Linked DNA regions of Homo sapiens: region 2 is linked to region 1. A link means that fine-mapping ties the variant in region 1 to the expression of a gene that starts in the linked region. Tissue or cell type: whole blood. Region 1 holds a variant in brackets; the other region holds the start of a gene. All regions are shown on one strand. Distances are from middle to middle.

Region 1 (5,369 bases):
AACAGCTGTTGTGGGGGCAGCCAGAGGAAACCACGTTCCCGTGGGGTGAGCTCATGGTTTACACGTTCCCTGCCAGATCCATAACATCCTGGAGGCAGAAGCGCAGAGGCTGAGCCCGCCCCCGCCCCCGCTGAGCCTCCCCTGCTCTGACACCAGGGCGGCTCAGCCATCCTCGCTTAGCCTGCACCTCCTGTCCTGAAGCCCCTTCCTCCCTCCACTTGCTCCCTCTGTCATTTACTCCCCAGCCCCGACCCACCCTGCTCACCCCTGAAGCTTCTCTGGGTCCTGGACTCCGTTCTGCAGGCTGGACGCCTTCTCAACTGTCCGTGGAGCCTGCCTGGTCTCTGGGGGTGTTGAGTGAGGGGTGACCCAGGAAGAACGTGTCAGAGACAGTGGACAGGGAAGCGTTTCTCACCCCTTAACTCACAGCAGCCCCACCGGGCGGACACAACCATCAACCCAGCCGCAGGTGTAGAAACTGAGGCACACAGACGCGATGTGGCTGCCCGTCTGGTAACTAGCAGCCGGGATTGGAGCCTGGGTCCAAGCTGCCTGTTCTTTCTTTCCTAGGCCGTGCGCCGTTTCTCCTGGAATAACTGGAGGTGATTTCATGGAACCTGGAGGCTGGGCTTCAGGCTGGGGGGAGAGGCTCCAGACTGGGTCTTCTCCGTGGCTCTGCCCCCCGCTCTCCTTGCTTGAGTGGTGGGGGCCCTGCATCCTCTCATGCCCACCCCCACCTTTCTCGCCAAATTGTCGGAGGCTTTTGTCACCTGGAGACACTGTTCCTGCCAGCTCCGGTCTTGGAAAACATGGCCTCTCCTCTCCTGCCCTGGCCCCGGCCCCTCCTGCCAGCTGGACGTGGGCATTTCTGCACCCAGTAGAACCCCACAGCCAGGAAAGATGCCTGGAAGGCTAGAGAAGAGGCGTGATGGGGGGACCCCATGTGTGGCGACAGAGCAGCACACCCAGCTATTCTCAGCCACCATGTGGGAGAGAAATGACGCCTCTGTCGAGCTCCCCATGGCCGGAGCTGCTCCATACAGCATCCTAACCTTCACCCCCAACTACTCAGTTGCCATGGCAAAGGGAATATTTTGACTCCCTTTTTTTAAAATTTCCAGGTGATTATTGCTAGAGGAGTGGGAAGTTACTAATTTTTGTATATTTATCTTGTATTAAAATGTTTTTACTGATTTTTAATTTTAATTTTAATATTTTTTGAGATGGAGTTTCACTCTTCTGGCCTAGGCTGGAGTGCAGTGGTGTGATTTCGGCTCGCTGCAACCTCCACCCATGGGTTCAAGCGATTCTCGTGCCTCAGACCCCCGAGTAGCTGGGATTACAGGCATGCACCACCACGCCCGGCTAATTTTGTGTTTTTAGTAGAGACAGGATTTCACTATGTTGGTCAGGCTGGTCTCGAACTCCTGATCTCAGGTGATCTGCCCACCTTGGCCTCCCAAAGTGCTGGGATTACAGGCGTGAGCCACCGCACCTGGCCTGATTTTTAATTTTTAAATGAGGGAGCAGAGGCATAACTAGGTTTACAATCATGTCATCAACAAAATAAATTGTCTTATTTTTCTGATATTTGTGCCATTTATTTGGTTTTTCTATTAAGTTTGCCAGAACCTCCGAGAAAATGCTGGACAATTATGACAGCAGCAGGCCCCACGAGTCGACCCTGGATTTGTGACATTTGTGTTTTCCACGTAGAACGATCTTGGCCACTATTGTGGACAGAGACTTTTGCACTTTTTTCTATTTTACTAGAAATAGTGCTTTTATTCATAAAGATTGCTGAATTTGGTCAGTTTTCTTTTCAGTACCTGTCGGTGAGGTTCTCTGAATTTTCTGTGCTAATTGGCTAATGAAATGACGTCTCTGATGACTGCGCTGCCCTCGTAAGCCTGGCCTTCATCTGCTTGGCCATAACACGATGCTGCCGACGCTGTGTTGGGTCCTATTTGCTGTTCTCTTGTGTAGAATCCGCCGACGCTGCGTTGGTTCCTATTTGCTGTTCTCTTGTGTAGAATCCGCTGATGCTGCATTGAGTCCTATTTGCTGTTCTCTTACTTAGATTTTTTTGCATCTGCGAAAAGTGATATTTGTCTATGGTTTTCTCTTTTTGTTCCACATCAGGTTTTTGAATTAGATTATCCTGGTTTCATGAGATGAATTACAGAGTTTTCCATCCTTTCATGTCTTGGGAAGGTTAAAGTAACCCTGGGATGACTTTCCTTCCATGGAAGGTGAGGTCATC[G/A]TCAGCTGCGGACATCTGCTCCTGGTGCCTCCTTTCCTGGCTCAGCTCTCGCCCTCTCCAGCACCTCGTGCTCATCTCTGCGTGGTGCCGCTCATCCAGAGTCATTCTGGACTTTACACCCACGACAACATGGCTGCTGCAGGTTTCGAAGCAGCTGCCCCGGCCGAGCGGGCTGTCTCATCATTCCTCCAGCCTCTTCCATACTGGGGTCTCTTTCTTCCTAATCATGTGTGGGTTTTTTTATTTCAATGTACAAAAATTCTAAATAGAGGTAGTCATTTATTTGTTTTAGTTTTTTTTTTTTTTTGAAACAGAGTCTCACTTTATCACCCAGGCTGGAGTGCAGTGGGACGATCTCAGTTCACTGCAGCCTCCACCTCCCGGATTCAAGCAATTGTTCTGTCTTAGCCTCCCAAGTAGCTGGGACTACGGGCACGCACCACCATGCCCGGCTAATTTGTGTATTTTTGCAAAGACACGGTTTCACTATATTGGCCAGGATGGTCTCAAACTCCAGGCCTCAAGTGATCTGCACACCTCAGCCTCCCAAAGTGTAAGCATTACAGGCGTGAGCCACCACGCCCAGCCTAGGCAGTCATTTCTTGATGCAGCTTTTGGGCTGGGCAAGGGGATTTTATTTTATTTCTTTCAGAAAACAATCATTTCTCCTTTTTACTTATTTGTTTTCTACTCATTAATTTCTGGCTTTATCTTCATAATTCTCCCTACTTTTTAAAATGCACTTTATTGTTCTCATTCTAGTTTCTTAGGGTGGCACAAAGTCCCTCTCGTTTATTTTTTCCTCTAAAAAATAAGAGCTGTGCTGGGGGCTCTGGGCGCTGCATTAGCTGAGTCCTCGATATTTATGGATTGATATTTATGGCTTCTCGGCTTTTCAGAGAGTGCACGTTCAGATTTAATATCCTGTTTTACCCAAGGGCTACCTGGGAGTGTGTTGGTTTCTAAGTTTCTGGGGGAAGAGGTGGCACTTTCCGTTATTTATTTTACAATTTTTTGGATAACAGGATCATTTTAATTATTCTACTTTTTAGTTCCTTGAGGTTTTCTTTGCAGCCAATACACAACAGACATGGACTTATCGGAAGTCGGAACGTTTGGAAGCTCTGTTTCCCGTGAGGAATCTTCGGAAGCGCTGTTTCCCATGAGGAACGTGAGCATGACCATCCATATTGATCTGTCTGCATTTTTCTGTTGCCACTAGACCTAATTATGGAGAGAGAGACACGGAGGGAGCTCCTGTGACCCTCAAGTCCCCTCATCATGTCCCCGTCCTGTTGGCTTTCCGAGTTTAGCTCCCATGTTTGGACCATGGAGGTTTATGTCTTCTATCTCAGTCATCGTCCCTGCCACATGCCCAACCAGACATGCTGACATCACAGGCCCTACTTAGCCCTGTTTCCTCTCCCCTTGGCCTCACCTTGATGTCAGGGGGGTGTCCTCTGGTCTGACTCAGAGGCAGTGACTGGCTTCCTTCTAGTACCTTCTCTGGATAATGAGTATGGATGACATACCTTCTAGTGTCTGCTGTCGCGCTTACCGGTGACACTTCTGGGCTGGTTTGTGATGCCTGGGATGGAGCCGTCTCCCTAGTGGTCATGGATGATGTTTCACTGTCCCCTGCTTCTGGTGGCACAGATGAGAACTCCAGGCCTCGTGCTCTCTCTGCTGGCACACACATCTTCCCTCCATGCTGGCTGCACACCTGCCCATGGGGTTTCTGCAGGAGAGGAGACAGCCAGAGGCCCAAGTGGGGTGTGTGGCAGGCAGGCAGCAACCCTGGTCACTGCAGTGGCCTCTGCTCTGAGTCTCGGGAGTAACCCTGGTCACCGCAGTGGCCTCTGCTCTGCTTCTCAGCTATGCCTGGTGTGACCCCCAGGGTCTTGGTCGGCATGAGGCCACAGAGCTCACGTGCACTTCCCGCAGCTGCTTCCACGGTATAGATGAGAGGTTCCCATGGAGCTCACATGACCTCTAGAGACTTGCAGACCCCTATGCTGTCAGACAGAGGAGGCTGAGGCTCAGAGAGGCACAGTCACCTTCTTGAAGATGCACAGCCGTGAGTGAAGAAGCTGGGATTTCTCCTGGTCTCTCTGACCCTGGAACACGTGGCCTCTGGGTGTGCCCAGTAAGAGACGTTAAAGAAGGGCCTCCCCCATGAGCCCTGACTGAGGCGGGGCGCTAGGCACCCCATCGATGTGCTTCGTGGTTCACAGGGGAGAGGCAGAGGGCCTGTCGGGGGGCAGCGATGGGGCAGCCAGAGGGGGCGGTCCTGGCCTGTGTGAGCCTCCTTGAGGGGAGGGTGCCAGGAACTACCCCATGATCTTCTATTCTCATGTAAGCCACAAGACCCCAACCCAGATCCCCACAGCAAAGGCGAAGTCACCAACTCAACAAGGCGCGTGGCCAGGCGTGGGGCTCACGCCTGCAATCCCAGCACCATGGGAGGCTGAGCAGGAGGATGGCTCGAAGCCAGGAGTTCGAAACCAGCCTGTGCAACACAGCGAGACCGCTCTACAAAAATAAAAAAAAATCAGCTGGGTGTGGTAGTGCACACCTGTAGTCCCAACTACTTGGGAGGCTGAGGTGTGGGCATCCTGGGGCTGGGGGTCTCCGGGGTGGGGGGTCTGGGGCAGGGGCATCCCAGGGCTGCTGGCCATGACCAGGCTTTGCGCCTCTGCCTGCTGATGGCCCTGGGGCTGTGATGGCGGTTTTGCACAGAGCCCACCCTCCAGCCCTGCTTGCTGAGGGCTACTCGAGGGGCTGCGGCAGTGCCTACCCACATGTGGTGCCCGGGATGCAGCCCCCATCCGCCCAACCTCGAGCTGTGCCTGGAGAGGCGGGGGGAGGTTCAGGTGCCATGGCAGCCTCCAAGGGGCCGAGGACTTAGGGAGGGTGCTGGAAGCTGGCCGGCCTGTGAGGGACCCCTGAGGCGCAGGGGGCCAGGGCCACCAAGCTGATGCGCCCACCGACGGGCCAGGGGGCCGGTCCTGTTGCCTGTGGGAGTAGTGGATGGGGGAGAGCGAAGTGGTTCCTGCGAGGCCGGCCACACACCAGCGGGACCCGCCCTGGGACCGCAGGAGATGCG
Region 2 (5,369 bases), 85 kb after region 1:
TACTCTCTTATACTTGGCTAAGCAACAGATTCTGGTTTAGAAAAGCAGACTGCACGGATACGTTGGTGTAAGATATTAATTGGGTAATATTAAATACCTTGAATGCCCACAACAACCCTCCCCTCAAAATCGTGAGTTAAGTACTTTATGACACTAAACCTACTTCTTTTCCGCATAGGACCGTGAAGAAAATTTTCGAACGACCAGTGAAGATACAAATAGCAATGTTTTATGGTGGGCTTTTGCACAAATATTAATCTTTATCTCAGTCGGAATTTTCCAAATGAAGTACCTGAAAGACTTCTTTATAGCTAAGAAGATTGTTTAAAATATTATCAATAAGGACAAATAATCTGCATAATGTTTGAGTTAATAAATCAAAATACCTGCATATATGTGTATTATTTTTATGATTTCAAAGATACCAGAGATTGAGATTAACGTTATATCATTATAACATTGAGAGAATGCTTTTATAATGCAGCTTCTGAATTTGATAGATTAGGCACCTCATCCTATTCTTAAACTTATTTTTGAGACTGAGTCTCGCTCTGCTGCACAGGTGCCGTCAGGCTCACCACAGGCTCGATCTCCAGGGCCCAAGCAATCCTCCCACCTCAGCCTCCCGAGTAGCTGGGACCCCAGGGGCCCACCACCACACCCAGCTAATTTTTGTATTTTTTGTAGAGACGGGGTTTTGCCACGTTGCTGGTCTTGCTATTTTAAACTTGGTAGAGATCAGCACTGTCTAACAGAAATAAAAGTGGGCTACATACATAATTCTAATTTGCTGTTGTTGTTGTTGAGACGAAGTCTCACTCTGTTGCCCAGGCTGGAGTGCAGTGGTGTGATTTCGGCTCACTGCAACCTCCGCCTCGTTCAAGCGATTCTCCTGCCTCAGCCTCCGGAGTAGCTGGGATTACAGGCGTGAGCTACCGCACCCAGCCCATACGTAATTCTAAGTTTTCTAGTCTCCACATTGAAAAGGATTTTTTGAAAGGGTAAAATCAACGCTACTGATATATATTTAACCTAATATATCAAAAATATCATGTTAACATGTAATCAATATAAAATTACTAAGAAGGTTTTCATACGAGGCCCTGGAAACAGCTGTATTTTACTCACATCTTTCGGGGCGCAGGGGTCACTTGGCCCGTAGCTACCGGGAGCGCTCACCCTGCGCTCTCCCGGCACAAGCACTTGCCTGAGCCTCTCGATCCGAGCTTTGCAGCGTCCCAGCGGGTGGAAACTCTCAAAACCACGCAGAGGACAATTTTATAAAAAGTCACTTCCCCATGCTGGAACCTGGAAGCAGCAGAGGTCCTTCCCGAGCTACGCCTTCCGTTTCAGAGGGAAGCAGGCTCAGGCCTCCCGTGCTGAGGTCTCTGCGCCAGCGGCCACCTGGACACTAGTCCCAAAGCGTGCAGCGCGGCCTGGCCCCCACCCCCAACTGCCCCCCCCACCCCCACCGCCTCATCACACCCCACCCCCACCGCCTCACGCCCCCACACCCACCCCAACTCCCACATCCCCACTCCCGCTCCCACCCCAACTCCCACACCCACTTATCCCTCCCTCCCTCCTATCCCGCTCCCCGGGCCCCCAGGGCCCCCACGCCCACTCTCCCCTACTCCTCCCCTGCCTCGCCCAGCGCACTACCCTGGCCGCCCTGGCCTCCGGCCCAGCTCCCGGCCCTCAAGGTGGGCCTGGCCCGCATCCCCCGCCCTCGGCGCTCCCCCTCCCCCTCCCCCACTGCTGTCGCGCCGCGACGCCTCCTCAGCGCAGCCGCCATTCCCCGCGCCCGCCACCCAGGCCCGGCTTCCACAAAACACCTGAGGACCGCCAAGACAGGGGCGGGACGTTGGTGCTCGCGGTGCGTTCCTCCGCCTACTCCAGCCCAAACGACCTGGGAGACGAGTCACACGCGCCCTCCCAGGTGCTGCGGGAGAACCCGCGAGGTTGGCGGGAGGGCGCGAGCTCCAGTGCGCGGGCGCAGGGCTGCCGTCGACTTTGCGCAGGCGCAGAGCTGCCCGCCTTCGGGCCCTGCGCGGGGAGGCTGGTCCCAACCTTGCGTGGGCTTCGCGTGGGCCCGGCCTCGCCGCTGCGGTCGCCCGCCTGGCATGGCCAACTGGGTGTTCTGTAATCGCTGCTTCCAGCCGCCCCACAGGACGTCGTGCTTCAGCCTCACCAACTGCGGGCACGTGTACTGCGACGCCTGCCTCGGCAAAGGTCAGGGCTTCCCGAACGCAGGCTGGAGAGGGGAGGGGAGCGGCAAGGGGGTCAGGGAACTCCGGGGGATGGGGGACTTGGGTGGGAGGGCCATGGGGGCACGTGGGGGGCTGCGGAGGAGAGAGGGCGCGTGGAGAAGGGGGAGGGGGCAGGGGGAGGGGGATGCCAGGGGAGAGGCCGCGAGGAGCAGGGGAACTCTGAGGGGAGGGGGACCTGGGGTGGAGGGGCCGCGGGGGCGCGTGGGGGGCCGAGGGGGAGAAACGGCGCATGGAGCGGGGGGGGCATGGGGGGGTGAGAGGCCGCGGAGGTAGGGGTATTCGGAGGAGGGGCCACCGGGGAGTGGGGGCCGCGGGCGTGATGAGGGGCCCGTGGGGAGAGGGGGACACTGGAGAAGCGGTGGGGAGGGAGCGGGGGAGTGAGGGGCTGCGGGAGGGTGGGGAAAGAGGGGACGCCGGAGGTGGTGGGGGGCTGCAGGGAGGAAGGGGACGCCAGAGGAGGGGGGCAAGGTGGGGGATGTGGGGGGTCAAGGCTTGGGGGGGAAGGGGGATACCGAGGAGATGGGGGGAGGGGAGACGCCAGGGGAGGAGGGCGTGGGGGAGGGTCCGCAGGCAGGAAGGGGCCGTGGAGGGGAGGGGCCGCCGGGGGGAGCGGGATGCAAGATGAGGGGGACACAGGGGTCGGGCCACGAGTCCTGTCAGTCGGGGGCTCTGGCTTGCAGGCTGCGGGTCCGCCTGGAGGACCTGGGGGAGAAGCGGGCAGGCGGCAACCTTAACGCCAGTGGAGGACTCTGGCCCTATTCCATGGGCAGCGCGGGGCCCTGGTGTCAAGTGGACAGTCGCATTGTCAGGGAGGCGTTTTTCTTTCTGTGAAAATTTTGTGTTGAACTGATGTTTATGCAAGAACAAAAGCAAAAACACAGTGAGCTTTTACCAAGCGAACTTCCCCGTGAAAGCAGCCAGCTGGGTGCCGGTGGCTCACAGCCCTCCAGCCCCAGGGGACGCCAGCTGTGCTGACCTCCATCCTCGGAGTTGGCCTTAGACCCATGGAGCCTTAGTGAATGCAGCCCTACAACCAGCCCTACAGCAAAGCCGCTTTCTGTGGCTCCCCATCTTTCTTCCTTTTTCTCCCTTCCTTCTCTTTGCCTCTTTCAAGGCAGAGCTCAGCTTTGTCGCCCAGGCTGGAGTTCGGTGGCGGGATCTCGGTTTACTGCAGCCTCCGCCTCCCAGGCTCAAGTGATTCTCCTACCTCAGCCTCCAGGGTAGCGGGGCTACAGGCATGTGCAGCCACGCACCCCTGATTTTTTTAATTTTTCACAGAGATGGGGTCCCTTTGTTGCCCAGGATGGTCTCCAATTCCTGTCCTCTAACAATCACCGGCCTTGGCCTCCCGAAATGTGGGATTAGCAAAGTTTATCATTGTATTTGTATGTAACTGTAGTTCATCTACTTTCATTGTTGTGTGGTGTTCCATTGTATGGATACACCCCAAGTTACTCATCGTTTCCACTGTCCATGGCCCTTTGGGTTGTTTGCAGATTTGGCTGCAGAAATAATGCTACTGTGAATCTTCTTGCTCCTGTCTTCGGTGATCTTAGGTACACATTTCTGTTGGGTGTGTAACCTGGGAGTGGAGTTGTTGATTTCAGGTGTGTATTTAAAAACAAAAGTGTCTCGGGCAGCGAGGTGAAAAGTAGATTGGAGGGAGATAGAAACTGTGGGAGAGACTGCAGCTGAGCACATGAGAGGTGATGGGGAGAAGTGATAGGTTCAGGAGAAGTTAGGTAGATTCAGCAGACATGAGTCGGAGACAAGGGCTAGAGAACTGGACAGGGTTTCACTGCTAGACAAAACACTGGAGAGGAGCCCAGCGGGAGGGAACCCAGCAGGGTGGGGCACAGCAGGGTGGGGTGCAGGGCCCCTGAGCTCATGTCTGGACACGGCCTGTATCCTGTGAGAGCCATCCAGGGGAAGACAAGAGGCAGTTGCACATGTGGGTCTGGAACTCAAGACAGCCAGGAACACATTTGGGGAGCGATTAATACGGGATAATAATCCTATAATCCTAGATATTGGAGTGTGGAGAGCCCCAAAGGTGAAGGAAACTAGAAGAGACTATCTTGTTGGAAAGAGCATTTGTTGAAGGAGGTAAAGAAGATGTCAGGTAAAAAAGAGATGTTGATGAACTGGACATCCCAGTGAAGTCAAGGAATTGGTGTTTGAAAGTGTCCATTGGACCAGTGAGGAGGGCACTGGTGACCCAAGATAATGTTCCCCGAAGATAACATTGTTAGGAATGATGGAGACGCGTGTGCCTTCGTGGTGCTGGGAAGTGTGAAGACAGGGCTCAGAGCGTCATAGCTTTTGAGGTCAGCATACTCTGCGTTGGCAGGTGACTGGTTAAGGGCCTGGGGCAGGTATAGATTCACAGGTTTGCCTAGCTCTTAAAGCCTGAGGTCAACACAGATTCCAGTAGTCTGAGTGCATTCCTCCAAAAAGCCACAGATGCTGCATGTCGGGACCACACCAAATCCAAAGACACACAAAAAAGTGGTGAAAAGGGGTGGAGGCTCTGGGCAGAGCCTTGACTGTAGCTCTGTAGCTGTCCAGTGGTGTGTCACTCAGAGGGAAGCCCTTGTTTAGCTCTGGTGTATATCCTTCCAAGCATTTCCTATAGATGCAGATTTTTAAAACAAAAGCAATAGTGTGTCTACCATTCAGTAATCTGCTTTTATTACTTACTCAAACATAGACCTCCTTCCGTGTTAAAATAAGTCTGTATCATCATTCTTAAGGTTGCATGATACATCTTTTGGCTATCATACCATAACATAGTTTCTGCCGTTTTGCTATGAGACACCACTTGTTCTCTTACTTGATTTTTTTCCTTGGAATATATTCTTCGGGGTGGAGTGGCTAGGCTGCGGATGTGCACATGAAAACTGACCCAAATGCGACCCAAACAGGCACAAAGGAAGTGCCTGTTTCTATTCCCTGTAGTGACACGTGAGCACCTGTTGTTTTCTCCTCTTTGGTGTCTCTTACTAGTGACCTTGACCTTCATTTTGTGTGTTTATTGGCTGTTTGCATTTTTTCCTATGCCTATTCAGGTCTCCTCATAGCCTTTTATTGAGGTGTTTC

Evidence for each region.
Region 2: RNF212 starts here. The variant in region 1 is fine-mapped to the expression of RNF212 in whole blood (TOPMed, PIP above 0.99).

What each region holds. Positions count from the first base shown.
Region 1 is chr4:1,195,249-1,200,617 of GRCh38, reverse strand. LOC124900647 (nascent polypeptide-associated complex subunit alpha, muscle-specific form-like) reads right to left here. Exons shown (of 3, transcript XM_047416477.1): 2 at 3,822-5,369; 3 at 1,580-3,487. LOC100130872 (a long non-coding RNA gene) reads left to right here. Exons shown (of 4, transcript NR_024569.1): 4 at 571-4,835. It also overlaps a transcript of SPON2 not described here. Among named protein-coding and RNA genes, the nearest start is that of CTBP1-AS, 12 kb to the left of the region's middle. RefSeq lists enhancers at 426-975, 2,858-4,057. The variant G/A (reference allele first, on the strand shown) is at 2,264.
Region 2 is chr4:1,110,219-1,115,587 of GRCh38, reverse strand. RNF212 (ring finger protein 212) reads left to right here and starts at 2,024. Exons shown (of 10, transcript NM_001131034.4): 1 at 2,024-2,232. The coding sequence starts at 2,124. LOC124900647 (nascent polypeptide-associated complex subunit alpha, muscle-specific form-like) reads right to left here and starts at 1,949. Exons shown (of 3, transcript XM_047416477.1): 1 at 1,836-1,949. It overlaps LOC105374344 (a long non-coding RNA gene), which reads right to left and starts at 1,949. Exons shown (of 3, transcript NR_134676.1): 1 at 1,836-1,949. It also overlaps the pseudogene TMED11P.